Homo sapiens: one gene and its partners. The protein of the gene in region 4 purifies or fractionates together with the protein of the main gene of each other region. This does not show direct contact. Each region holds a gene or a part of one and is shown on either strand. Other genes may lie near its edges. The genes, in order: RABGGTA, GDI1, GDI2 and RAB1B.

Region 1 (6,835 bases), on a different chromosome or scaffold from region 4:
CTGGTCGTTGAGGGAGGCAGCAGGCAGGTCACAGAGCTGGGAGTACTGGGTCAAGGAAATGCCCCAGCCTAACCACTTTTTTGACTGTCCCACCCAGCCCTGCCCCAGACCCCAACTTCTGCCCCACCAATCCTGGGATACCCAGACATGGCTGGGCCGGTTCCTGCCATCTGGGGTCCTCCACTCCACAATCAGGGGAGAATCATCAACCATGAGCAGCAAGATCTCCATCCTGGAGCCCACCTGGCACAAAGGACAAAGACTTCAGCCCCATCAGCACCAGGCCCACAGTCCCACAGTGCTCTTGACAAAAGCTGCAGGACTCACTAAGAGGGGCCGAGAGAAGGAGACAGTCAGACAGGCCTCGTCCCGGCTCACATGCAGGCAGCGCAGTGCATCCTGGGGGTCAGCTGCGGGGAGACAGTGTCAGATTTCTTTAAACCCTCTCCCATTCCTATTAAGCGCTAAACACCCAGCCCCTTTCCTCATTGCTCACCTCGGCCTAGGAGCCAACGGTGATAAAACCAGGCACTCTGGTCATTGGGGTCAGTGAAGAAGGCATTCTGCACCAGCTCCAGCTCTGTGGGGTTCCAGGAGGCATGGGGCTGTGGTCAGGACACTGGTGAGCTCCTGGCCACTCCAACACCCTACCCTCTCCTTGGAGTACTTCCAGCCCCCAGTCTCACTTATATGCTGTCCTTGCACAGGGGCTACGTATGTCAGTTTTATCTTCCCCATCAGACACTTAAGCTTCCTTCAGCCAGGGACTGATTCTTAAGCACCCCTGGAGCCACGCATGAAGTAGGTGCTCAATAAACCTGAGTGACAGGTTCAGGAACAGGGTCAGGCATGGGGGCTGGAAGGGTGGCACTGCAGAGTCCTCCTGAGCATCCCTGACCCTGGTTACCTTTGAGCAGCACATCCTCAGGGAGGCGCCCCTGTGGTCCAGAATCCGGCTGGGGGTGCAGCTGGGGCAAGAGACAGGAGCGGTAATGCCAGGAAGAGTAGTTGGAGAAGTTTCGGGTGATGAGGCTGTCAGTGAAGGCTAGCTCTTCTGCAGGGGGCACGGCTGCCTGTGTGGCCACAAACCGCCGATAGTCCCAGCAGTGAACTGGAGGGGAGAGGTGACAGCATATCTTAGAGGCAGGGCAAGAGGAGCTACCTGGCTGGGACCCCTAGAGTCCCCTCAGGAACCCCTAGAAACACCTCAGTGCACTCCACGGAGGATGCATTTGGCTCCAACATCCCTTTCAGCACCAGCTCAGTGGACCCATCCTGGATATCCCTCCCCATTCTGGGCCTTACTGAGGCCCCAGTACCAGAATGTGGGCAGGTGAGGGCTGTGGGGACAGAATCTGCAGCCACGTACAGTTCCGCTCATCCACCTCCAGGAAACGGGCACAGAGCTCCAGCTCTCGGGTCCAGTTGGGCTCAGGCAGGCGGCCTAGCAGCCAGCATCGGTGGTGCCAGGTACCATAAGACTTGGGGTTCACCCGCAGGCAGCTCTCCAGGAAGCCCAGTTCTGCCTTCACCAGAGCAGCCAACTCTTCAGGAGACCTGTACCCAGAAGGGAAGGGGGGGGTCAGGGCTCTCCTACAGTCAACCTCAGCTCACCCCTCACTTTCTGCACCCAGCCCCCTACTATCCTCCATCTATGCCACTGGCTGCCCCATTTCTCCTCCACCCCTAGACCCAGGCAGTGCAGGCGCAGGGCCAGGGCAGTCTTCTGAGATCCTGAATCCCTACGCACTTCTGAGTCTCCAGCTGCTGGAGCACCTCTCGTCGGCAGTTCCAGAGGGTGGCAAAATCAGGGTTGGCTCCCAGAATCTGGCTTGTCAGTTCCAGCACGGACTCATCCAGCTCACCAGCCTGGCGCTAAGAAGATAGGTGGCAGGGTTAGAGATCATATAATTTTCCCACTACAGGACTAAATAACGTAAACTTAAAACCATCCAATATTCTGTGAATCCCACATTATACAACAGGTACTATGAACCATGCTTTATGGCCTTACAGGTATTCTCTCATTTAATCTTCACAACAGCCTTATGCAGTAGGTGCAATTATTAGCCCCATTTTACAGATGAGCAAACTGAGGCCCAAAGAGATTCAGCAACTTGCCCAAAGTCATACAGTTATAAGTGAGATAACCCAGAATTGGATCTAGGCAGTCTGACTCTAGGGACCAGCTCTTGGCCTCTGCACTATACTAAGGGAGCTACTTGGGGTCGGGGCTACCTCTGAGGGCCCCACCTTCTGGAATACGGCCTGGGTGGCTGACTGGTATAGCTTCAGCTTCTGCTCTCGCTCTAGCCTTTTGGCCTCCGCCTGCTCTTCTGACGTCTTCACCTTCAGGCGTCCGTGCTACAAGGATGAACGGGTTGGAAGAGTGCAGGTTGCCTTGCAGAAGCTGACCTGCAAAAACCCCACACTGTGGAGCCCTAGGTTCATACGGGGCAACCATGGCACTGCCACTGGGGGTGAGGGCGCGGGCCTGCGGAGGTGAAGGGCTGGGCTCAGGGTTCTCACCATGGTGCCGGCTCAGGGTTCAAGACAGGGGAAGGGTCCAGTGGTAGCCCTTGAAGTCTGAGGAGAGAAGTGTCAATCACGTAGCCCCGCCCCTACTAGCTCCGCCCACAGCTGTGTCCGGAAGCAGCAAGCGTGCCTGGGCAGAGACCCCCAGAGTGTAAAGAGGTCCTGGGACAGGCTTTGCACGTTCCACAAGAGGTGAGCACCCGGACTAGGACTTCCATCCGTGTGGCCCTTCCTATAGCCCGATTCGCCCGGGCCAGAGCGCGAGCCGGGGCACCTGGGCGTTGGGGACCACTCTGCTCCCCAAAGGTTGCCGCTACCCGCCCGTCCCACGGCTCCCGGGCACCCCCGCCCCCCGCGGGCGGACCCACCTGCGCTGGGAGGAGGCGCGGGGGACGCGGAGCTGCGGCGCCCGCCACAGAGCCCAGGCGCTGGCTAGAGCGGCGCCACGTCCCGGCTCATCGAAACGCAGCGCACTCTGCAGGCTTGGGGAGGGACTTGCGGCGGAAGAGGCCGGCTCGGAGGCGCGTGCGCGGGGGCTCTGCGCTCGCTGTCCGGAAACGCCTCGTACCTGTTAGCCACCTGGTGTGTACGAGTGCGCACGGGCGACTGTAGCGTGCGTGTGAAATGGGGGGAGGACCATGCCAGTTGGTAACTCAGAGTGCAATGTAGTTAGTGGAAGAGGTTTCTCCAACAGCCGGAAACCCGCACCTTCACTACTCCACTGACCTCACCCTGGCCACACCGACAGCCTTCTAGATGTCAAATCTAACAGGGGGAGTTTCCTGTCATTTTCTCTAACCTCTGAAGCATTTGACGCTACCCATTTCTTTATACTTGACACCCCCATTCTGGCTTCTCCTCCTGCACCTCTGCCTCTCTCTTCTCATCTGTTCACCTCCACCCCTAAATGTTGGTGATCTCCAGGGCCCTTTCCTCACCCCTTTTTCACTTCACCCACTGTTCCTGGGAGAATGTTTAAATGTAAGCCTTCAACTGCTTCGAGTTGGAGCTCCTCAGAGCTGTTTTGGCCCACAAATCTGGCATTACACTTTCTCTGGGTGAGTTCATCCACACTCATTGTTTTAATTACTACCTGTAAATTGATGACACCCAAATTTATATCTCCAGCCCAGATGTCTTGCAAGCTTAAATAACAATAAATAATATACATGCACATACATATTCAAACACCTGTTGGATATCACCTGGTGTCCCAGAGACACCTCAAACTCCAAAAGCCAAAAGGTATAAATTATCTTTCATCCATCCTGTCTAAACATTGGCCTTTATGTTTTCTATTGTAGTGAATGGCACTATTTCCTCCTCACTTCTTAAACTCGCTTAAATACTCTTTCTCTTCCCACTGCCACTAGGAGTTCAAACTCCGAATTTCTTCTCCAGATTGTTGAAAGTCTTTTCAGTGTTCTCCACCTCATCCCTTGTTATCAGTCCATCCTCTGTGCTACTGAATCCATTTTTCTAAAATGCAGATTTGACGTCATATCTGTGCCTAAAAGTGCTGAGTGGCTCCTTTTCAGGATAGAATTGTAATCTCTCAGCTCAGCACATCAGACCTATTGGCATTTGGGCTCTGCCTACTCTCTGGCTGTATATCCTGCCTGACCCTGCCAAAAACTCTTCATGACAGCCTACAGAAATACTTGCAGTTTCCTAAATATGTTAGCCTGTTCCCTCTTGACTCTCCTTTCTCCACACTCCTCCTTTGCCACAGTAATTCCTGTTTATCTTTAAGATTTAACTTTTTGAACTCCACAGTACAAAGAAAAAAAAATGTAACTCAAGTGGCACCTCGAGGAAGTTCTCTAAAATGCCCCAGTCTGATTTGATAGACCTTCATATGTACTTTTAAAGACTGTGATTTTTTTCCCTGTGCCTACTGCAAAGAAGGTTTTCTGGTGGAGCCTTTATGAGGTTCAGGGTGGCTAGTGAGTGTGTGTGTACCACACGTACACGTGTGTGATGTCTTTGCGAATAGTGTGTCCATGTGGCATGTGTGTGTTTATAACTCACACCTGGGTAAGAAGGTAGTGCTTTAAATTTTTTTTTTTTTTTTTTTTGAGACAGGGTCTCACTCTGTTGCCCAGGCAGGAGTGCAGTGGCACGATCTCTGCTTACTGCAACCTCTGCCTCCTGGGTTCAAGCGATTCTCCTGCCTCAGCCTCTGGAGTAGCTGGGACTACAGGCATGCACCACCACACCCGACTGATTTTTGTAGTTTTAGAAGAGACGGGGTTTCACCATGTTGGCCAGGCTGGTCTCAAACTCCTGACTTCAGGTGATCTGCCCACCTTGGCCTCCCAGAGTGCTGGGATTACAGGTGTGAGCCACCATGCCCCGCCAGTGCTTTAAATCTTTATATATCCTTCACACCTCTCTCAGCCCCTGGAAATGTATGTAAAGTGTCCATTATATACTTGTCCTTTCCTAGATCCTATAACAAATTCTCGAAAAGAGACATTTTTCCTATCCCTGTGTATTTGTAGTCCCAGTGAGGAAAGAGTTAAGCCATTTATTGGTTCTCTTTGTGCCAGCCACTGTGATGGGAGTTTTGCATACATAGGAGGGATGTGCACACACACAGAATTACAGGTAGGAGGCAGTAAGCAGAGTGATTAAGAACATGGATCCTGGAGCCAGACTGCCTGGCTACAAATCCTAGCTTTGCCACTTGCTTGTCCCAGTGTGACCTGGGGCAAGTTACTTAACTTCTGTATTGCGTTTCCTCTATGTCTGAATTTCTTCAACAGTAACATAGGAAAAATATTATCTAGCTGCTGCAGTTGAAGTTAATCTGTTGAAGTTAAGCTGAAATAAAAGAATCTATGTAAAGTGCTTAGAATAGTGTCTGTACTAAGTAAGGGCTCAGTATAGTAATAGGAAGCTGAGGCTCAGAAAGATTAAGTAACTTGTTGAGGGCCACCCATGTAATAAGTGGCCAAATGGGACCTGTGTCTAGTCTGGTCCAGCCCTCCCACCTCACCACCAGCCTTCTTTTGTTGGTGGTCACCTCCTTCTCTAGCTTCCTGCTCTGTGCACACTCATAGGCGCAACCAGATACTTGGGAACACAGATGCCCTCAAGTGCAGATTTGCCAGGTACAGCCTTGCATCATAGTCACTAATCACATTGTGATTAGCAATCTTGAAACTGGGAAGGTTGAGTCAAGCAGGCTTAAGAGAGGAAGTGAGTCTCATGAAAAAATCTGCATCAGAGAAGGCAGGGCTTGAGTTTTGGAAAGAGCGGGCAGGAAGGGTATTTCAGGTATGTAATATGACGTGAAGGTGGGGGAGAGAAAGCCAAACTAACTTAGCTGGCTGGCACAGAGAGGCTGAGCCAGGTGCCTTTGGAGATAAGAGCAGTGGAACTGATGATAATAAGCCTCTTGCTTGAAGGCAAAAGGAGTTGTCAGGAGTTATATTTGGCCTCCTATGTGGGATAAGTGGGAACCATGCAGGTGTCTGAGAGCCACAATCTTTTTTTTTTTTTTTTGAGACGGAGTCTCGTTCTGTCACCCACGCTGGAGTAGTGGTGCGGTGTCTGCTCACTGCCAGCTCTGCCTCCCAGGTTCATGCCATTCTCCTGCCTCAGCCTCCTGAGTAGCTGGGACTACAGGCGCCTGCCACCCTGCCCAGCTAATTTTTTGTATTTTTAGTAGAGACGGGGTTTCACCTTGTTAGCCAGGATGGTCTCGATCTCCTGACCTCGTGATCTGCCTGCCTCGGCCTCCCAAAGTGCTAGGATTACAGGCGTGAGCCACCATGTCCGGCTTTTTTTTTTTTTTTTTTTTTGAGACAAATTTTGCTTTTGTTGCCCAGGCTGGAATGATGCAATGGCACCATCTTGGCTCACTGCAACTTGTGCCTCCCGGGTTCAAGCGATTCTCCTGCCTCAGTCTCCCGAGTAGCTGGGATTACAGGCATGCACCACCATGCCCAGCTAATTTTGTATTTTTTGTAGAGACAGGGTTTCTCCTTGTTGGTCAGGCTGGTCTTGAACTCCCGACCTCAGGTGAGCTGCCTGCCTCGGCCTCCCAAAGTGCTGGGATTATAGGCGTGAGCCACCGTGCCCTGAAAGCCACAATCTAAATGATGTTTGAAGAAGAGATTTTTACTGCCCTCTATGTATAGAAAGAAACAAACAGTAATTGAGTATCAACAGAGCCCCAGACATCTTATTTACTGCACTCACTACCTATATGAAATAGGTATTATCCATATTTTACAATGAAGCAACAGGGAATACAGTGGGTTTGCAGAGGTTAGTTTCTTGTCCAAAGTCA
Region 2 (7,408 bases), on a different chromosome or scaffold from region 4:
CACCACCCAGCTTCCCCTCACTCATCAGTGCGGTAGAGCGCCAGGGCATGGCCAGTGAAATCGATGACATCCTGGCCCAGATCAAACTTCCGGTAGACGTCACGCATGCTGGTAGTCTGGGGGTCAACGCCCTCAAAGGTCTTGGGGTCATTCTCATCGAAGTTTGCCACAAACACCAGGAACTTGCGGAAGCGCCGTTTCTCAAACATGCCCATCAGATCTAAGGAACGCGGCGGGAGGAGGTTCTGCATCAATGCAGCACAAAACTCTCCATCCCAGCAGGGCAGGCACCCCCACTCACAGCCCAGCTGTCCTGTGATCTTAGGTTAACCTCTCCACCCTTTTTAGCCTCAGTTTCCCCACCTGGATGAAGAGGGGATTGGCCTGGATGGGCTCTAAGGGCCTTCCTGGCTCAGACACTTGGCGATGTCTCGGGGATTCAGTGGAGGCCCTGCCAAAGGCTCAAGTTTTTGTTTTTTTTTTTGAGATGGAGTCTCCCTCTATCGCCCAGGCTGGAGTGCAGTGGTGTGATCTCGGCTCACCACAACCTCCGCCTCCCGGGCGCAAACCATTCTCTTGCCTCAGCCTCCCGAGTAGCTGGGATTACAGGTGCATGCCACCACACCCAGCTAATTTTTCGTATTTTGAGATGAGACGGTGTTTCACCATGTTGGCCAGGCTGGTCTTGAACTCCTGACCTCGTGATCCACCCGCCTAGGCCTCCCAAAGTGCTGGGATTACAGGCGTGAGCCACCGCACCTGGCCAGGCTCAAGTCTTTCAAAAGGAGCCCCGTTCCCCTCCACATCACATCCCTGCTGTGTGAGGACCTCCCTCCTGGCAGCCAGCCGTGCAGCATGACATGGGGCAGAGGGAATACAGAGTGAAGGGCCTCTCTGGTCCTTCACGGGAAATGTGACTTTGGACAAGGGGGTGCCTTATTCTGGACAGCCACCCATCCCAAAGACAGTTGGCTTCCCTGCCACCCCATGATTTCTCTGGCTCAGGGGGCCCACACTCACTGGAAGCCAAGGCCTCAGTCTCAGTGGACGGCACTTTGTAGATCTTGCCCCCCTTGTAGACAAAGCTGCCCTCCACCACCTTGAAGTCCAGGTAGCGAGTCACCTCTGTATACAGTAGCATCTTTACCAGCTGCCCTGTGGGGGTGCACAAGGGCAACATCAGCACGGCTCTCTCCAGAGGCTCTAGCTGGTCTGGCCGTGCCTCCTCTGGAGCCTGACCGTCCTCGGGTCTTCCCTATCACCCCCGACCTGCAATACCTCCTTCCTGTCCCTCACCGTTAGCCATGAGGAATTTGGGAATCAGGTCAACATTCCAGTCTCGGCCTCGGCCCATCGACTCAGGGGGCCCCTCCAGCAACTGAAAACGCTTATACAGCTGTAAGCAGAAGGGAGAGAGAGAGACACCTCAGGGACCACCTCCTCCTGCTCCAGGCACCTGGGGAGCTACTTCCACCCTGTGCCGCTATGTGGGAGGTTAACAGGGATAGGCTTGGGCCTGGGCAGCCTCACCTCCTCCAGGGGTGTGATGGAGGAGCTCTCGCCCCCGTAGTAGGGGTTCCGGTCCATGTGCAGCACCTTCTTCCCGTTCACAGACATGATGCCCGACAGGATGCATTCCTGGGGGAGGGTGACACCATCCGCTGCACTCCCACCTGCCTCCGCTCCTACCAGCAGACCTGATTTGTTCCCCACCCAAACCTGCCTCAGTGGACAGCTCCTTCCACCCACCATCCCCACTGGCTAGTTGCCTCGCCTAAAATTGGGGTGATGGCTTCATCCGACCACACTCTCCATTGCAACCTTGCTGGGCAAAGGAGTCCCGTCCCCCTCACAAGGCGGAGAGTGAAATAACGGAGGCTTTGAGGGAGGCAGGGCATCCAGCAGACACAGGATGGCCTTCCAGTACCAACACGCCGAGAGGCATCTACCTACGCAGAGCCGCACAAAAAGGCGGATAAAACACAATAAGGCACAGAGAAGACCCAGCTGGACTGCAAAGGACACTCGAAAGGGAGGAAAAGAAAGGCTTAGCACAGTCCTTGAAATTGTAGGCCCCACCCTGGACTGCTCTTTCTTCAAATAGCAGGAGCCCCTGCCGCTGAGGAGGGGCATCTGGGCCTGGACCGAGGAAGAAGAGTCTCTGAGGGGAGTAGGCCAACGGGGTTTTCGGGGAAAGGGGGAAGATAAACACCCTCACCAGTCACTGTCACTAGCCCAAGGACAAAGGCTGCAGATGCTACCCAGCCTGAGGTCTCCATGGGCAACCGAGGTGGGGTTGCGGGAATGTGCTTACTGCCCCCACTGCTGTTCCTTCTGGAACATTCCCTGGATCCCCTGGCCCCAGAAGACGATGAGGAGGCGGGCTGAGGGCCCACTCTGGCGAGGCCCCCTGACCCCAGGTCCTTCTACTTCATCCCCACCGGGATTAGCGCAAGATGGGAACGGACGCTGAGAGGCAACGCTAGGCGGGCAATGGGTGCGGGCGACGGGTGGATGCCGTGATGGGTGGGGGCGATGGGTGGGCGGGGTCGTGGGCATCGGGCCGAGTGGGGGTGCGTTTTCCGGTCCAGCGGGCAGGGGTAGGGAAGATGGGAGGGCGCCGGGGGTCGGACCCGGGTAGCCCAGGAGGCGGCCAGGAAGGGGGCCTCTTCGGGGAGATGGGGTCATGGCAACGAGCAGAGGCGACGTCGCTGGGGGAGCAGCGGGGTGGGCACGGCGCCGGCTTTTCGGGGAGCGGAGCGCAGAAGATGGCAGTGACCAGAGGATGGGCCGGCGGCCGCATCATCGCGGGGGATGGCGAGGGCACGACGCAGGGCCAGGGGCGCCGGGGCCGCACTTACGGTGAGACCGGTCCCCAGCACGATCACATCGTATTCCTCGTCCATGGTCAGGCCTCGGTGCCAGCGCCCGCTCGGCTCCTCCTCCTCCTTCACCGCAGCAGTCGCCGCCGCCACCGCCGCCGCCGCCACCGCACTGGACCAAAGATGGCGGCGCGTCGGCCGTCGCCCGACCCCTCCGCCGCGTCAAAGAGTCCCGCCTCTTCCCGCGCCCCGCCGCAACCGGCAGGGGCCACCGCCTCCCCGGCTCGCCTCCCGGGAGGGCTGCCAGGGCCCGGGCCACAGCACCAGCGCGGCTCCGCGGGCGACGCTGCTCGCCGAGAGTCTAGAGAGGCGCGGGGCGGGGCGGGCGGGGCGGGCCGGCGGCCGGTGCTGCGGCCCAGGAAGAATCCGTGCGCGGGAGCCGCGCGCGCCCCGCCCCACCCGCCGCGCCCCGCCCCGCCCCGCCCCGCGCGCGCCCGCCCACCTCCCCACCCCCGCCCACCCCCCCGGGAGTCTCGGCGCGGCCCCGCGGCCGGGCGCGCGCCGCTGCGGCAGCCTGGGGCGGCCCCCTCACGACGCGAAGGCTGCCATTGTCACGACGGCCTCCTGAGACGCCGAAGCGCACCGGGACTCGGCCCGACCGCCCCTCCCTACCCTGAGCGGTTAGGGCCCAGCTTGCTAAAGCCCCTCCCGGTCTCCGCGGATGCCTCTTCGCCTCCCCCTCGCCAGGCTCCATCCTCCCGCATCCCTCCGGCGAGCACGCGCCTAAAGCCCAGCGCAGAAATGAGCGACAAGAGGCCCAACGCATGGCGACCCGCGTTTATTTTATTAGGAAGGAAACAACCAAGCACCCCATGCTCCTGCCCGGCACTCCCGGTGGGAACATGCCAAACAGCCGGCGATCGCACCCAGCCCACCTGTCGTGGAGGTCCCTTCCTTCTCAGGCCACAGAAATAAACCCGTGTACTTCTTATTGTTAGCACAACATCACCAGAAAACGATAACGACAGCCAAGCAGGACAGACAGTTAAGTAGTACTTCCACACTCCCAAACTCAGGGAGCCCTATAACCTTAAGGAGGGAGCATTTGCTACACAAAAGCACTATCCACAGCCAGGGATGATGTAGCCACAAGAATAAATAAGGAGAAAGGAGACCCTAGAATTCATGTCCCTTACGCCTCACAGCGACGAACCCTGGGAAGCTGGTTGGTCTAGCATCTACGCAGAATATGTACACCTTGTTGGGAGAGATGGGGGCAGCCCAAGAAAGCTCCTCAGCGGGCTGAAGAGGGAGCAAGATGGGCTGAGGGGAGCTTGCAGTTCATGCTGCAGTAGGAAGAGGGAAGCTCTTCAGTCCAGTGCGCTGCAGGGTGGGAAAGCAACAACACGGACACCGTCCCACCCTCAACCCCCCCACTGGCACAGGGTCACACAATCTGGGTCAAAGAAATAGTGGGGCCCTTGTGGTCATCAAAGCGATCCATGGTCTTGAGGCTGAGGATCATGTGCAGGCCATAGGTGAAGATGAAGAGCATGAACAGGGAGGTGAGCAGCCCCATCCAGATGCCGGGGGAGAAGAAGCTGGCACAGTCGCTGGCGTAGGAGAACTGCTCCCCCATTACGTTGAAAGCCTGGATCTGGCAGACACACAGACACGGGTCAGAAAGGACCGTTGGGAGGCCCAGCAAGAACTGGGACAGGGGCAGCGCAGGGACAGGACTCTCAACTACATGCCCAAGCCCAAGCCTCTCTTCGTCTCTCAACCACTAGCCTGGGCTCCCCCACCTGAAGCTGGGCCACGCCCGCTCCATACCTGGAAGTCCTGAAGCATCATCTGCCAGGGAGAGGGCTGCGTGCGGGCCACGAGGAGACTACCCTTCTTGCTCAGGCTGCTGACATACTCGCAGTGGAAGGAGTAGATGCTGGGCCCTGTGACCTGGGAAGCATTGAAGTAGGCGACGGAGCCATTGCTGTGGACTTCGAGGCGCTCCATGGTAAACCAGTGCCGGGCAGACACTGGGTAGAGGCGGTTGGCCAGAATGAACCTGGGGAAGGTGGCAGGGATGTCAGGTGAGCTGGGGAGGCTGGGGCCACACCAGCCCACCCATACCTCAACCACCCCCAGGACTCACTTGAATGTCACTGTGGTACCAAAGAGTCGTTCATAGGTCAGTGAGAGCCTGTGGGGCCAGAGAAAGAGGCGCACTGTGAGGCTCTGGGAGGGCCTTTGGCATCTTAGAGGAACAAGTTCCTCAGCTCTGCTCCTACCTAAGCTGCCTTGGGTCCTTGCAGCCACCTGAAGAAGCAGTGTCCCCACTTGACAGATAGGAAAACTGAGGATCCAGTCACATTGCAAGGTCGGAACAGAGCTGGAAGCCAGGACCCAGGTCCCCCTTGCCACCAGCATGGGGGTCCTTCCTCTGGTTCCCCTGAGCTCACTGCCCCTCCTTTTACTCCCTCTTAGGGTCACTAAGGTGCCTGGGCTGGGCTTTGGGGGCGAGAGCAAACAGAAGGGCATGGTTGCCCCATAAATGGCTCAGATAGCTGGCCTGGTATTTGCCCACACAAAGTCCCAGAGGTTTTGCTCAAGGGGGAGGTGACAGGTTCCCAGGTAACCTTGAGGTGTTAACAACCAAGGTCCCAACCAAAGACTCGCAAGCATGGGGAGGCAGAAGTCTGAGCAACTCCCCCTCCAACAGCACCCCATGCCATGACACCTCCTACATCCTCACGCTGCCCAGACCCCAACCAGACCATGGCCATCCCCACCCCAAAACACAGACCTGACCCTGGCTCCCTGCCCCACCTGCGACCCACAGTGATGGGAAGGTCACCTGTGGTGGCACAGTCCTCCCCAGCCTAGTGCCCTTGCCTGGCAAAGGAGTCATTCCAGAAGGAGCCAGTCAGGTTGAGTTCCTGCACCCCAAAGGTGAGGGGAGTCAGGTCCTCCCACTGGTCCTTGTACGCCACAGAGAAGTTTTGGGCCCAGAACAGGATCCGGGGAGCGGTGTCATTGTAACTCACAGGAGGATGGATCACAGGTGATACTGGCTGTTTTTGTAGCAGCTGGCGACCTAGCCCTCCGGCCACCACGGCTACATCACGGGCCACCTGCAGAAACACCCAACCAGCCTTCTTTCAGCAGCCCTGGGAGAGTGTCACACTTGAACCCAATTGTCGTGCCCTCCTTCCCCTCCCAACAGGACACCCTGTCCACTATCTCAAAGTCCCATCAGCCAGAGGAGACCTTTCCTCCAGGAAGCCTTCCCTGATGCCCCCTAAACCCTGATGACATTCCTAGTCCCTCAAACTTAGGGTCATTTAGACTTAGTGTCCAAGTCTGCCACCCACAAGCCTCACAGGACGAGATGGAAAGCTGCCCCTGGAATGGGGAGGCAGGACTTGAGTGCTCATCCTAGCCCTGCCCCCAGAGTCAGCCACTCCAAATAGTCACACCACAGGGGTTCTGTGCCTCATGCTTCCCCTATGCTGGGCCTCCTGGGCAGCCTACCTGTGGCATACACTCCCCACCTCCAAGCAGACTCACCACACTGCCTCTCCCTGCACGCCCCAGAGCCCCTGCTGGAAGGGCACATACCCTGGAAGGGCGGACCGCTGTGAGGGCCGCTGTGTATGGGACATCTTCGGACTTGAGTGTGCTCAGGACCTGCCCGATGACCTCATCTGAGGGTCAACAAGGAGAGCAGAGACTCAGGTCACCAGGCACCCTGCATAAAGAAACACTCCCCACTGTCTGCTTTAGAAACCTTCTAGACCATCTGAAAGTGGTGTGTTTACTTTCCACTGAGGATCCTTAGGAGCAGCTACTTCTCATCCCACCCCCATTCCCAGCCTCCCCCAGAGACAACTGTGGCTTCAGTCATCGATTCCCTAATGCCAAGCCCTACCTATGTGACATAAGAAAATACATATCAATACAGAAAACTCCACATCCACCCATGAAAGGTTCACGACTGCCTTTCCATGGGGAGTGACTGTCCTTTATTGCAAATAGATGAGTCCCCAGAATTGTTTTTCCAAATGTCTGCAGTCTTATTAAACCCATAACTCTAGGATTCACGCTGCCTGCACAGAAACTGGCTCCACAGCCTCCAGCACAGAGAGCCGCCCCCCTCTGCCAAGTGGGGTCTGGCTGGACAGGGTCTTCTGTCAGGTGGTCCCTGGCTGGTCCTGGGAGCCAGCATTTCCCTGCTCCACTGCCAGCTGCCCCGAGAAGCAGGCGGGCCACCCTGGGAGTGAGGAGGCCGAGGAACTGCAGGCCAGCTCTCTCTGTGGCCCCCACCCAAGGGCTAGATGAGGACGTGCATCCTCCCTGATTCTACTCACCGTTGCCTGTGAGGACTTCCCTGGGTGCCATCAGACCAGAGCTATGGAAGACAAACAGAGCGCCAGAGTCCTCAGGCGGCCTGGACCTGCACTGCCCACTACCCTTCCCCGACCCCAGCTTCTCCTCCCCACTAGCCCCACGCACCAAGCCTGCACACTCTTACCTCAGTGCCCCCTCCTGGAAGCCCATCCCACCCCGAGGCTTCTCAGTCACACTCA
Region 3 (3,745 bases), on a different chromosome or scaffold from region 4:
AATATGAATAACAATCTAAATCACCACCCTAGTTCCTTTAACACATCATCTACCTTAGTCTGTCTCCTTCATACTCTGAAGAGTCAGTGTTTATCTGTGGTAAACAACAGCATCTGCCGTGAGGCTCATCACTGTCAGGGGAAAGGGCCTTATATGTAAACACTTTATCATTTCAACTACACAAAAATTATTTACTAAAGCACCTACTCTACCTGACAGTTCACTTACTCCCTTATAACTGCTGCTACAAGCAAAATCATTAAACACTATTTTTTCTGCACAAAGATGATAGGTCTAGTAATGGTACTGTGTCAAGAATAAAACTCGAGGTCTACTCACAGGGAAGCCAGACGACAGGACCTGCTGTGATCCTTCCAGATCAGAAGACACCCACGCTTTCCGCTGCTGAGCATTCTGACTGGCATTGACTCCAGTGCTACCAAAGGAAGCACGGCAGCTGTGACCCTTGCAATCAGGACACACAAACCAACACCGGGCAGTAGTTTCCAGAATTTGGCTTTATTTTGCAGTACAGAAATCATTTGGAGCCATTTTGAGACAGAAGTAGAGGCTCTGTCAAGTCAATACTGCATTGCAGCTTGGTCCACTGAAGAAGCCACGCCTGAGATACAAAAGATGCACTACACTTGACCCGCTTTATGTTCGCTTCCTCTCCCCTTCTCTCTCATCAACTTTATTAGGTTAAAACACCACATACAGGCTTTCTCCAAATGACTCCCTATGTCTGGGGTTTGGTTAGAATTTTATGCCCACATAAACCAAACTTGTGGCTATGCTATTTGGGCCCTGCCATAACATTTGACATAATACAAAATATAAAGTCATAGGGAAAACTTCCGGATGCTGTCCCAAACCGTGGAATATTCAATTTAGAATCTCCTGAACCTCAAGAGGACAGATGACACACAACCTGTATGGATCCAGCTCTTGAGCAGCAGCAGCACATAGCTACACTGATTAAAAGATTAAAAAAACTGTCTCAAGTTGTCTGTGTCGGTATCCCAATGTTTGTTTAACTTCACTAGAAAAAAAAAAAGCCAGTTTGGTTAAATTGAACAGAATGTGGTAACTGCCAATGCTGAATAGCCACTCCATGAAAACAAGTTAATAATTAGAAAGGTGAAGGGGAGTATTTACTGGCACAGCGCTCTTCATTCTCTCCATTTTCATTACAAAAGCAGGCCTTACAATATTGATTTCATTATATGCATTATTTGCCAAATTTTAAATGTGTCCTAATTACATAATAACATGTACTGCTGTTAGTCTTCCCCATAGATGTCATTCTTCTTGCGCTTCATTTCCTCAAAGTCAAACTCTGATCCTGTCATCCTCTTATAGATGTTTTTAATGTCATCACACGTTGTCTCAAAATGAGTGGTGGCATCATATGTGCGGGAAATAAAGATCTGAAAACAAAAATTACGAAGACTTAAGACCATGGAGGGATGTCTTCCAGTGAAACCTGCCCATATCCTTTCACACTTCCATACTCACCTGGCTTTCTGTTCCCAAGTCTTTTGGTACCAGGAGGTCACTGATGCTAACAAATCTGGAGGGAGAGAGAATTCAGTCAGGTGAGCTGGTCCCACACCTGACCATGGCTCTGCCTGAGGTCAACTGAGAGGTACAGATGAATCCCACAGAGCAGCCAGCAGCTACCTGCCTTGCCCTCACATTCGTCCCACCATGGAGCCACAATCAAAGGCCTCAGTTTGCATCTCGGCAGATATAAAAGAACACAACTCACTTCTGTTCAATTGGTTCCAAGAGCTCCAAAGCTGGTCTGATTTCCTTCTCAGGCTCCTTGGTTTCCACAGTTGTACTAACTATAGCAATGTACTTCCCTTGTGCTGCTACATTGTGCGCAAAGGAGATCATGCAGACGTAGATATCTAGAAACAAATGATACCAGCTCACTGCCTCAAGTGTCTCCATCTGGGACCCAACATACTCAGGTATCACCCATATGTCATGAGGTGTGAGTTAAAATTACTCTCAATAGGCAAGATCTTCTACACTTAAGTTCTAAATGGTGACAGAGTTGGATGTAAAGTACACAGATATTTAACAATAGGAATTTCTTTTAACCTACTAGAGATTAAGAATTGAAGTGGTAGCGAACTGCTGAAGTTTGGAATGAGATCTCTTAACAGCTCTGTCATACCTAACTAAAAAACCTGCCAAACCATATTAACTATTCTGGGAGATTCTTCCATTCTGGACCTTGCATTTAGAAAGGTTCTGAATGGCTAAGAAAGGATGTACTTAGTACTGACGTCCTCATTTACTTATTACAGTAATGTAAAACTGCAGAATCCACATAAACCACTTTTGAGTTGGCATAACGATAGAATTCTCGATTAGACTTGGTCTGTATACCACTCATCCAGTTAACTGTGTCATTTCCAGGATAGAAAATCATTTGGATAGGAGAGCATTTAAAGGCCAAAAAAAAAAAACTCTGGGACCTCCTTTATTCTTTTCAGACTTGCAAGGACCCAGGACCCGCCTGGGAACCTTGTGGAAGATTAAGTCCAGTCCCTTTGTTCTACAGATCATCTTTTGTGATTGGTTTTTTTTTGTGTTTTAACAGTCTGGCTCTGTCACCCAGGTTGGAGACAGGGATGCAATCACAGCTTACAGTAACCTCAAACTCCTGAGCTCAAGTGATCCTCTCCCACCGCAGCCTCCCAAGTAGCTAGGACTACAGGTGTGTGCCACCACACCTAGCCATTTTTGTTTGTTTGTTTTTTGTTTTTGTAGAGACGAGCTCTCACTATGTTACCCAGGCTGGTCTTGAACCCCTGGCCTCAAGCAAGCCTCCTGCCTTGGCCTCCCATGATTTCATTTCTTATATGGGGGAAAAAAAATCATTATACAGATAGCTCTTACCTGTCCCATAAAGCCTGATTACCCTTTTTAAGCTGAATTTTAGATAAATAAAAAGATTTGGGGCTTCTAGTTGAAAGGAAAATGGGAACATCGAAGGGTTACAAACAACTGGCTAAGACAAATAAGTTAGGACTTGCAATTTTAGAGCCATGTCCTGATCACAGAAATGAAAGGTGGACACTGCTAGAATCAAATGTAGGTACTAGGATTACAAATAAGGACACAGAAGCAGCTATGTCATTAGCTCAAGAATATACTCGGGTCAGTTAACTATTAAGCATAAACCTCCACAGGAACCTACTGTTAGTTAGAGCTGGGAGACGCAGGGTTCACCAAGCCCAGTCTGTTCATTCTACAGGTGATGGACACAAGTCCAAGGCTGGCTCCGAGTTGAATCTGTCCGCGTTGACACAATGCTGCCGGAGCAGGAGGAGGTACAAAGATTTTTTTCCCCCATATGTAAACCAAGGTCTGTTCACTAATACAGCATACAAAATTAGGAATTTGGGATAAAACACAAAGCAAATTATATCTTACAAAATTCTACCAACATCTGCTGGTCTTCAAACCTCACCTGACTTTCGATTGACTTGGTTCTGTGGAATAATGATCTGGCAGGAGTTGGCATCATTGGTGTTCTTGATGGGGTGGCTGAGGATGCAAATAACTCTGATCACCTGGCCCACTTTTTCTACCCGATCTTTTACGTAGCTGGGGTCACAGATGAGCTGCTTACAGCGAGCAATCTATAACAAAGCATTTAAGAAGACACTGAAGCGGACAAGGATATAGGGAAACACATCCCATGTTCATAGTTTGGAAGACTTAG
Region 4 (6,387 bases):
CCTCGGCACTCCAGCCACCGGCACAGCCGCACTCGGCCCCCTCGGGCGGGCGCTCAGGGCAAAGGCTGAAGTGCGAGGCACTTGTCACTGTCGGAGACGGCAGAAGCACCTGGCTGGGACACACAATGACGCCAGGACAGGGGCTGAATGGGAGCAGTGGGGTTTTGGGGGGCGCTGAAGGAGGTTGGGCCAGGTGCAGTGGGGGCCCTCTCAGCGGCTGCGCGACCCCACACCTCTGCCGTGTGCCCCGCGGGAGTTGGCGGCGGCACGCCAGGTATGAGCTGATGGCCGCCTGCCTCTTTCCCTGACAGAACGGTGCTGGGCCCTTGGGGACAGACCACAGAAGCACAAGCAGCTTTCCTGGCCTCAGGAAACGGGGTCAAGGGCTTTTGCCAGCAGCCTTAGGACACAGAAACCAAGCCAGGACCCCCGTGCACCCCACCAAGCCCAGGGTTCCAGTTCCATCCCCCCACCCCAAGGCTGGGCTTAGACCACAGACCACACTTGGCCACCACAACTTCCTTGCAAAAACCCTCAGCTCACCCGAGGGCCAATGGAAATTTATTAATTTTTTTTGTCCTTTTCCATCTTTCCCCAAGTGGCTTTTCCTTGCAAAATGCCTGACATGACACCAGAGGGGAACCTGGGAGCGGGGGGCACCCCAAGGGGGCAGCCCAGGGACTTAAATACAAGCTGGAGGGCAGGGCACAGGTGGGACAGGCAAGAGACAGCACGAGGGACATGGCTTCTCAGGGAGACCAAAGACTTGCTTTCTTGCAGGAAGCAGCTGTGCCAGAGGGCAGGGGACTAGGATCCTGGGTGCAGAGTGGGTGAGCAGAGAGGCCCCCAATCCTGGATGGAACCCACATTCCCCAGAGAAGTAGCGGCAGGGGATGAGGGCCTTCCCTGGTGGGCTCCAGAGACGGAGTGGGGAGTGAGCCAGATGTGCTACCTTGGGGAAAGGGAGGAGGTGCTAGCAGAGTGAGGGTTAAGGCTGGTGCCCAGCCTCTGGCACGGTGGGCCTTCCGCCTCCGCCTGACATGGGGACAAAGGGGCACGGTGGGCAGGCAGCGCATGGGTCTGTCTCTGGCAGGGCAGAGGGCGGCAGGAGCAGACTCCCTCCAGGCTCAAGACACAGGCCCAGCACTGCTACCCGCCCACCCGCCCTAGATATACTCAGATCCCACCGCAGCTGGACGGCTCGAGCTGGGAGTGTAGGAAGGGAGAGGAGGCAGTGGGGAGAGGAAAGGGTGGGCTGCTGGGCCCCTGTGGCCTCCATGCCTGTCCTGAGGTCCAGCCCAGGGCCCTGGATCCCAGGTCCTGGATCCCCTGGCCACATTCCTCGCCCTGGGCACTGACTGCAGCCAGGGCAGTAGAGGCCGGGGAGACCCTCAGTTCTTGGGCAGGACAGCAGGAAGAAGAAGGAGAGAACCCAGTGCAGCATACATGGGGGTGGGAGGGACACCGACAGAAGAGCCCTCGTTCCAAAGAAAGGTGTGTAGGGGGGCATCTTGGAAAGTCACCTAGAGGCAACAGCACAGCAGGCCTCCGCCCTGCCTGGCCACAGGCCCTGAGTGTCCTCCCTTAGGGACCCTGACAGAACCGGGGCTCAGGGCAGCAGGCAGATGGGCCAGAAGGAGATGGGGAGCCCAGGACACCCCAAAGCCACAGACTCAAATGCCCCAGGAGAGGGAGAGGGAGGTACCTCCTGCCCCCTCCAGGGACATCATCTGGAGAAGGTGCCCCCTCCTGTCCCACTCCATGTGCCCCTCCTAGCAACAGCCACCGCCAGCCGGCTTTACAGGGGTGCTGTCGATCTTGAGATTGGGCCGCTCGCCCCCAGAGGCTGCTCCAGGCCCCATCCGCTTTTTGATTTCAGCAGCCATGGTCATGAACGCCTGCTCGACATTGGTGGCATTCTTGGCGCTCGTCTCCAAGAAGGGGATGCCCAGAGAGTCTGCAAACTCCTGACAAGGGAGAGGAGAGAAGAGGAGGGGAGAGAAGAGGAGGGGAGAGCAGGTGAGGGGCAGCAGGCCCCAGCGCCCCGACCCCGGGCAGACCGGCCCGTCTGCTACCTTGGCTGTGGTGTTGTCCACCACCTTCTTGGTGGTGAGGTCGCTCTTGTTGCCCACCAGGAGCTTATTGACGTTCTCGCTGGCATAGCGGTCAATCTCCTGCAGCCACTGCTTCACGTTGGCGTAGGATTCCTAAAGGGGGCCAGGGGCCAAAGTTATTTTGCTCCCAACTGTCACCCCTACCCCAGGCCTGGAGAAGACCTTCTCTGAGGGGAACAGTACAGCTCCGGGCCCCTTAAGTCCTGGGCTCAGCGATGCAGAGATGCAGAGGAAGCCCTCTGCTCCAGGCTGAACCTTCCTCCCTGCCCTCTTCCATCCGAGACCCAGAACAGCCCCAGCAGCCTGCCAGCTGCCCCAACACCTCAACAGCTGCCCCAACTTGGGCCTGCCAGCTCTGCTCCCTGCAGCTGTCTCTCTCCCTGAGACACTTGCAGGCCCTAACCACATGTGAGAAGCAAAGAGAGAGCGGACGGGAGATAGGAACAGAGAGTAACGGGTCCGCAAGAGCCACAGTTCCCACCGTGGCCTGAAAATCCCTTTAAGGTTTGAAGCCTTGGAGCACAGGAGTTCGAGGGTCCTCTCAGAGGTGGCCCTGGCCTGTGGGGAGACAGGAATCCTGGGAACAGCCTAAAATTCATCCTACTTTTGGCACCAACAGCCTCATTACTTGGCTTCAGACTCTCCCAGCACTTGCGCCCCTACCCCACACACAAAGGACAGGACTTTCAGGAAAGTGCTCAAGCTAGGGCCACTTATACTCCTTAGGAGCCAGAAGCCTGGTCATATCACACTGGCTCAAACTTAGACCTCTTGCCATGTTCCAAGTTGGGTCCTGTGCTAAGTGCTGGGGACAAAGGGGGAAATCATACTTGGGCCCTGCCCTAACACATTCACGGGACAGTAGATGAATAGACCAGGCCACACACAAGGGCAAAACAGGTTAGAAGGCAGGGGCTGGGGAGCCCCCAGACCACCTCTGCTTGAGGTGGGAGCAACAGTGGACCTAAGCCTGCAGGTGGGAACTGGCCTTGTGCAGGAGAGGTGCCAGCTGGGGAGCCAGCATGTGCCAGGTCACTGAACGGGAGGGGCATGGTGTGTCTGGGGAATGGGAGGAAATGGAATGTTGCTGGGATGCAGACACTCAACAGGGAGGGGGGACAGGGAGGGGGAATGGGGGAGTGGGGAGGAGAAAGGCAAGAGGGGAGAGGGGGAAGAGGGGAGGAAAGAGGGGGGATTGGGGAGAGGCCAGAGCACAGACTGTCTTAGCATGGCTAAGTCTTGGACTTAGACCAGGAGCCAGTGGGCGTTTCTTAGGCCAGAAGCAACAGGATCACACCTATGCTAGTCCTGACAGGAGGCAGAGCCCAGATCAGAATAGCAAGATAGAGACCAACTGGGAATGGCTGGAATAACTCAGGGAAGAGAACGTGCACTGAGCCAGGGAAGCACACAGGATTTAGTCAGACCACTGCTGCTGAAGGCCTGGCTCAGCCATTTACTGTGTGACCCCAGGTATGTTACCTGACCACTCTGAGCCTCAGTTTCCTCATTTCTATAAACAGTACCTCCTAGAAGGGCTGATTGTGAGCATGAAGAGAATGAACACAGGCTTGTCTCATAACAAGTGCTTAATTGGCAAGAGCTGCTATTATCCTCATCACTGCTATTATTATGAGGGGACAGATTTCAGAAAGATGATGGGGAGAGAATAGAGGGGACTCGAGACTGACTGGATGGGGGAGGGAAGAGTTTTCTGGTCAGGCTGACAAGGATTGTGTCACAAAGATGGGGATGCAGCTGGGGCATGGTGGTGTGTGTCTATAGTCCCAGTGACTTAGGAGACTGAAGCAGGAGGATCCCTTAAGCCCAGGAGGTTGAGGTTACAATGAGCTATGATCACACCACTGCACTGCAGTCTGGGTGACAGAGTGAGACCCCATGTCTTAAAATAAATAAAAATATTAAAAATGGGGATAGAGGCGCTGGTTTGGGGAGAGACAGTGAGGCCAGCGCTGGACATCTGAGTTCTGCAGAGGCTGCTTGAGGGTGGGAAAGGGTGTGCTCAAAAGCCAAGAGCCCTCCAAAACTGGCTTTGCCCTTCCCGTGAGACCGGTGGCAAGTTACTTAACACCTCTCCAAGCAAGTTTCCTCATCTAGAAAACACAAACCTCACCATTTAGTTTACTAGAGAAGATCATGAAGATCAGGATTAATACAGACACAAAGTGCCAGTGTAGACATGGACAGAGGAGGGAAGCCACAGCCACGGCTGTTAGATGCAGGAATCACAGAACACAAGGCAGAAGCAAACCACAGAGTGGCCGCAGCCATGCACAAGAGTAAGGAGGAGAGTCCAGGGCAGTGGGGAAGCACCAAACACAGGGTGATGGGAGGCAGCACTGGACAGACCAGCAAATAGACACTGACAATAGAGAATCGAGTGCTGCAGGAGACTGAGGAGCGGGGGATGGTCCACTTTTCAAGGAGAGAGAAGAGAGCAGTGTCCAAAGCCACGAGAGGTCAATGTGCTGAAATAAGATCACTGGATATATGGCAGTCAGGTGGGCCCTGGTAACTTGTCTGGGTGGTATGTAGCTTCCCCACAGCTCGTCCAGAGCTGGGGACATCATGAGTCCCTGGTGAGCTAAAGAGCCCGGCTGCTCCTCAGACAGGGACTCTTCCCGGCCCACGGCTGATTTAAGCTTCTCCTTATCTTCAGGGATTGGCCCTGTTAAGCAACAACATTTGGTAGAAAAAACAAAGCAGGTGGAATGAGCCATCCAGGCTTTCTGCCTCTGCCACCGGACTAGCTGAAGGACCCTCGGCAAGTCACCTCACCATCCTGAGCCCAGCTCCTTACCTGTGCGATGGGAACACAGACCTCTTCTGAGCATCAGAGGCAATCTGAGGGCTGGGCCAGGTTCTGTAAACTATAAGGTTTCATGGAACCATTTCCAGCCCTTGCTACCACCACTGCTAGTCACATGGGACTAACGCTGCTGCTGGAGGCAGAGCTTCTGGATCTCTGCTCACATTGGGCCCAGAGCTCAAGCTTCCCTGCTTCTTTGTCTAAGGCCCTCTAATTGTCCCCCTGCACTGTGTCTTCACACAGGAAGCCACAGGCCCAGCATAGCAGCCAACCGCCTGACTAAACTCCCACAACACAAAGGTGCCCAGAAGGTCTACAATAAGGTGGCAAGTTTGGCTTGGTGGGGAGGGAAGGTGTGAGGCCTTGTCCTGCCAGAACCTGCAGCAGGGCCTTCAGAGGATCCATTTCTGTGGCTGTTTCCCTCCTTGTGAAATGAGTCCAAGTACAGTCACCTATTTTTTTTCTTTTTCCTAGTTAGTTCCTGTAAGCAGACAAATAGTGTCCTTTCCAGGAAGCATCAGGAAAGAGAGGATGGAAGGAGGAAAAAGAAGAGTCAAAGACCTAAGGCTAAGGAGGCCAAGCTGAGGATGGCTAGTCCAGGAGTACCTGGTCAGTGACGTCATACACCACGATGATGCCATGAGCCCCCCGGTAGTAGCTGGAAGTGATGGTCCGGAACCGTTCCTGGCCCGCTGTGTCCCACTAGGAGACAGTAGGCAGAGGAGCAGGTCAGCTGAGGTCCAGAGTCCCAGAGTCCCTTCCCTCCCAAGGTGGATACCTCTGTACTGGGGATTTTGGGAAGAGCGACACTCACGATCTGAAGTTTGATAGTTTTGCCATCCAGCTCGATGGTTCGGATCTTGAAGTCCACCCCGATGGTGCTGATGTAGCTCTCTGTGTACGTGTCATCCTGAAAGTTCAGGGGCCAATGAAATCATGGGAGTTAATGAGGTGAGGCCCACTTGGAGAGCCTCCCTCCAGTTCCCTGCCCCAGCTGGGTCTCCGAACCACCAAGCCCCAATTCCCAGCACTCAGCTGGCCAGCCCTGTCTTGTTCAGGGCAGATGTGCTGGTGGCAGGTCTTACAGCTTCACCCCTGGTTCCCAGATCTTGCAACTACTGTGCTCTGTGTTGTCCCTTCTCCCCCCAGCTGCCAGTCAGGACCCCAGGTGGATGGTATGGGAGGCTTCTTACTCACAGCAAACCGCAGGAGCAGGCATGACTTGCCCACGCCTGAGTCGCCAATCAAAAGCAGCTTAAACAGGTAGTCACTGGAGAGAGAAGATGGGAAGGCGTGAAGGGAGGCAGGGAGCCCACCTACCATCATCCTGGAGTCACAATTACAGGATTCCCCCACCCCATGAGGCATCCCTTGGTTTATTTTTATTTTTTTTTTAGCAATAAGGTCTCACTCTGTCACCCAGGCTACAGTGCACTGAAGTGA

What was found.
Region 1: the proteins of RAB1B (region 4) and RABGGTA purify together in Homo sapiens (affinity purification with mass spectrometry; 3 studies listed by BioGRID and IntAct, with this or other methods). This does not show direct contact.
Region 2: the proteins of RAB1B (region 4) and GDI1 purify together in Homo sapiens (affinity purification with mass spectrometry; 5 studies listed by BioGRID and IntAct, with this or other methods). This does not show direct contact.
Region 3: the proteins of RAB1B (region 4) and GDI2 purify together in Homo sapiens (affinity purification with mass spectrometry; 5 studies listed by BioGRID and IntAct, with this or other methods). This does not show direct contact.

What each region holds. Positions count from the first base shown.
Region 1 is NC_000014.9:24,268,584-24,275,418, forward strand, and holds the start of RABGGTA (geranylgeranyl transferase type-2 subunit alpha), read right to left. Parts: upstream 3,015-6,835; 5' UTR 2,904-3,014; exon of another isoform or gene 2,587-2,903; 5' UTR 2,533-2,586; coding exon 2,530-2,532; intron 2,365-2,529; coding exon 2,254-2,364; intron 1,876-2,253; coding exon 1,751-1,875; intron 1,558-1,750; coding exon 1,370-1,557; intron 1,112-1,369; coding exon 908-1,111; intron 581-907; coding exon 497-580; intron 411-496; coding exon 328-410; intron 244-327; coding exon 142-243; intron 37-141; coding exon 1-36. UniProt on the Homo sapiens protein: Catalyzes the transfer of a geranylgeranyl moiety from geranylgeranyl diphosphate to both cysteines of Rab proteins with the C-terminal sequence -XXCC, -XCXC and -CCXX, such as RAB1A, RAB3A, RAB5A and RAB7A.
Region 2 is NC_000023.11:154,432,753-154,440,160, reverse strand, and holds the start of GDI1 (rab GDP dissociation inhibitor alpha), read right to left. Parts: upstream 3,008-7,408; 5' UTR 2,907-3,007; coding exon 2,862-2,906; intron 1,639-2,861; coding exon 1,531-1,638; intron 1,397-1,530; coding exon 1,297-1,396; intron 1,156-1,296; coding exon 1,021-1,155; intron 221-1,020; coding exon 22-220; intron 1-21. Other genes in the region: ATP6AP1 (V-type proton ATPase subunit S1 precursor), read right to left, coding at 4,270-4,479, 4,656-4,887, 4,975-5,022, 5,715-5,953, 6,441-6,526, 7,190-7,230. UniProt on the Homo sapiens protein: Regulates the GDP/GTP exchange reaction of most Rab proteins by inhibiting the dissociation of GDP from them, and the subsequent binding of GTP to them. Promotes the dissociation of GDP-bound Rab proteins from the membrane and inhibits their activation.
Region 3 is NC_000010.11:5,764,723-5,768,467, forward strand, and holds the end of GDI2 (rab GDP dissociation inhibitor beta), read right to left. Parts: intron 3,663-3,745; coding exon 3,491-3,662; intron 1,917-3,490; coding exon 1,772-1,916; intron 1,574-1,771; coding exon 1,519-1,573; intron 1,431-1,518; coding exon 1,284-1,430; 3' UTR 501-1,283; downstream 1-500. UniProt on the Homo sapiens protein: GDP-dissociation inhibitor preventing the GDP to GTP exchange of most Rab proteins. By keeping these small GTPases in their inactive GDP-bound form regulates intracellular membrane trafficking.
Region 4 is NC_000011.10:66,271,624-66,278,010, reverse strand, and holds the end of RAB1B (ras-related protein Rab-1B), read right to left. Parts: intron 6,215-6,387; coding exon 6,142-6,214; intron 5,855-6,141; coding exon 5,759-5,854; exon of another isoform or gene 5,647-5,758; coding exon 5,551-5,646; exon of another isoform or gene 5,419-5,550; intron 2,208-5,418; coding exon 2,076-2,207; intron 1,968-2,075; coding exon 1,773-1,967; 3' UTR 519-1,772; downstream 1-518. UniProt on the Homo sapiens protein: The small GTPases Rab are key regulators of intracellular membrane trafficking, from the formation of transport vesicles to their fusion with membranes.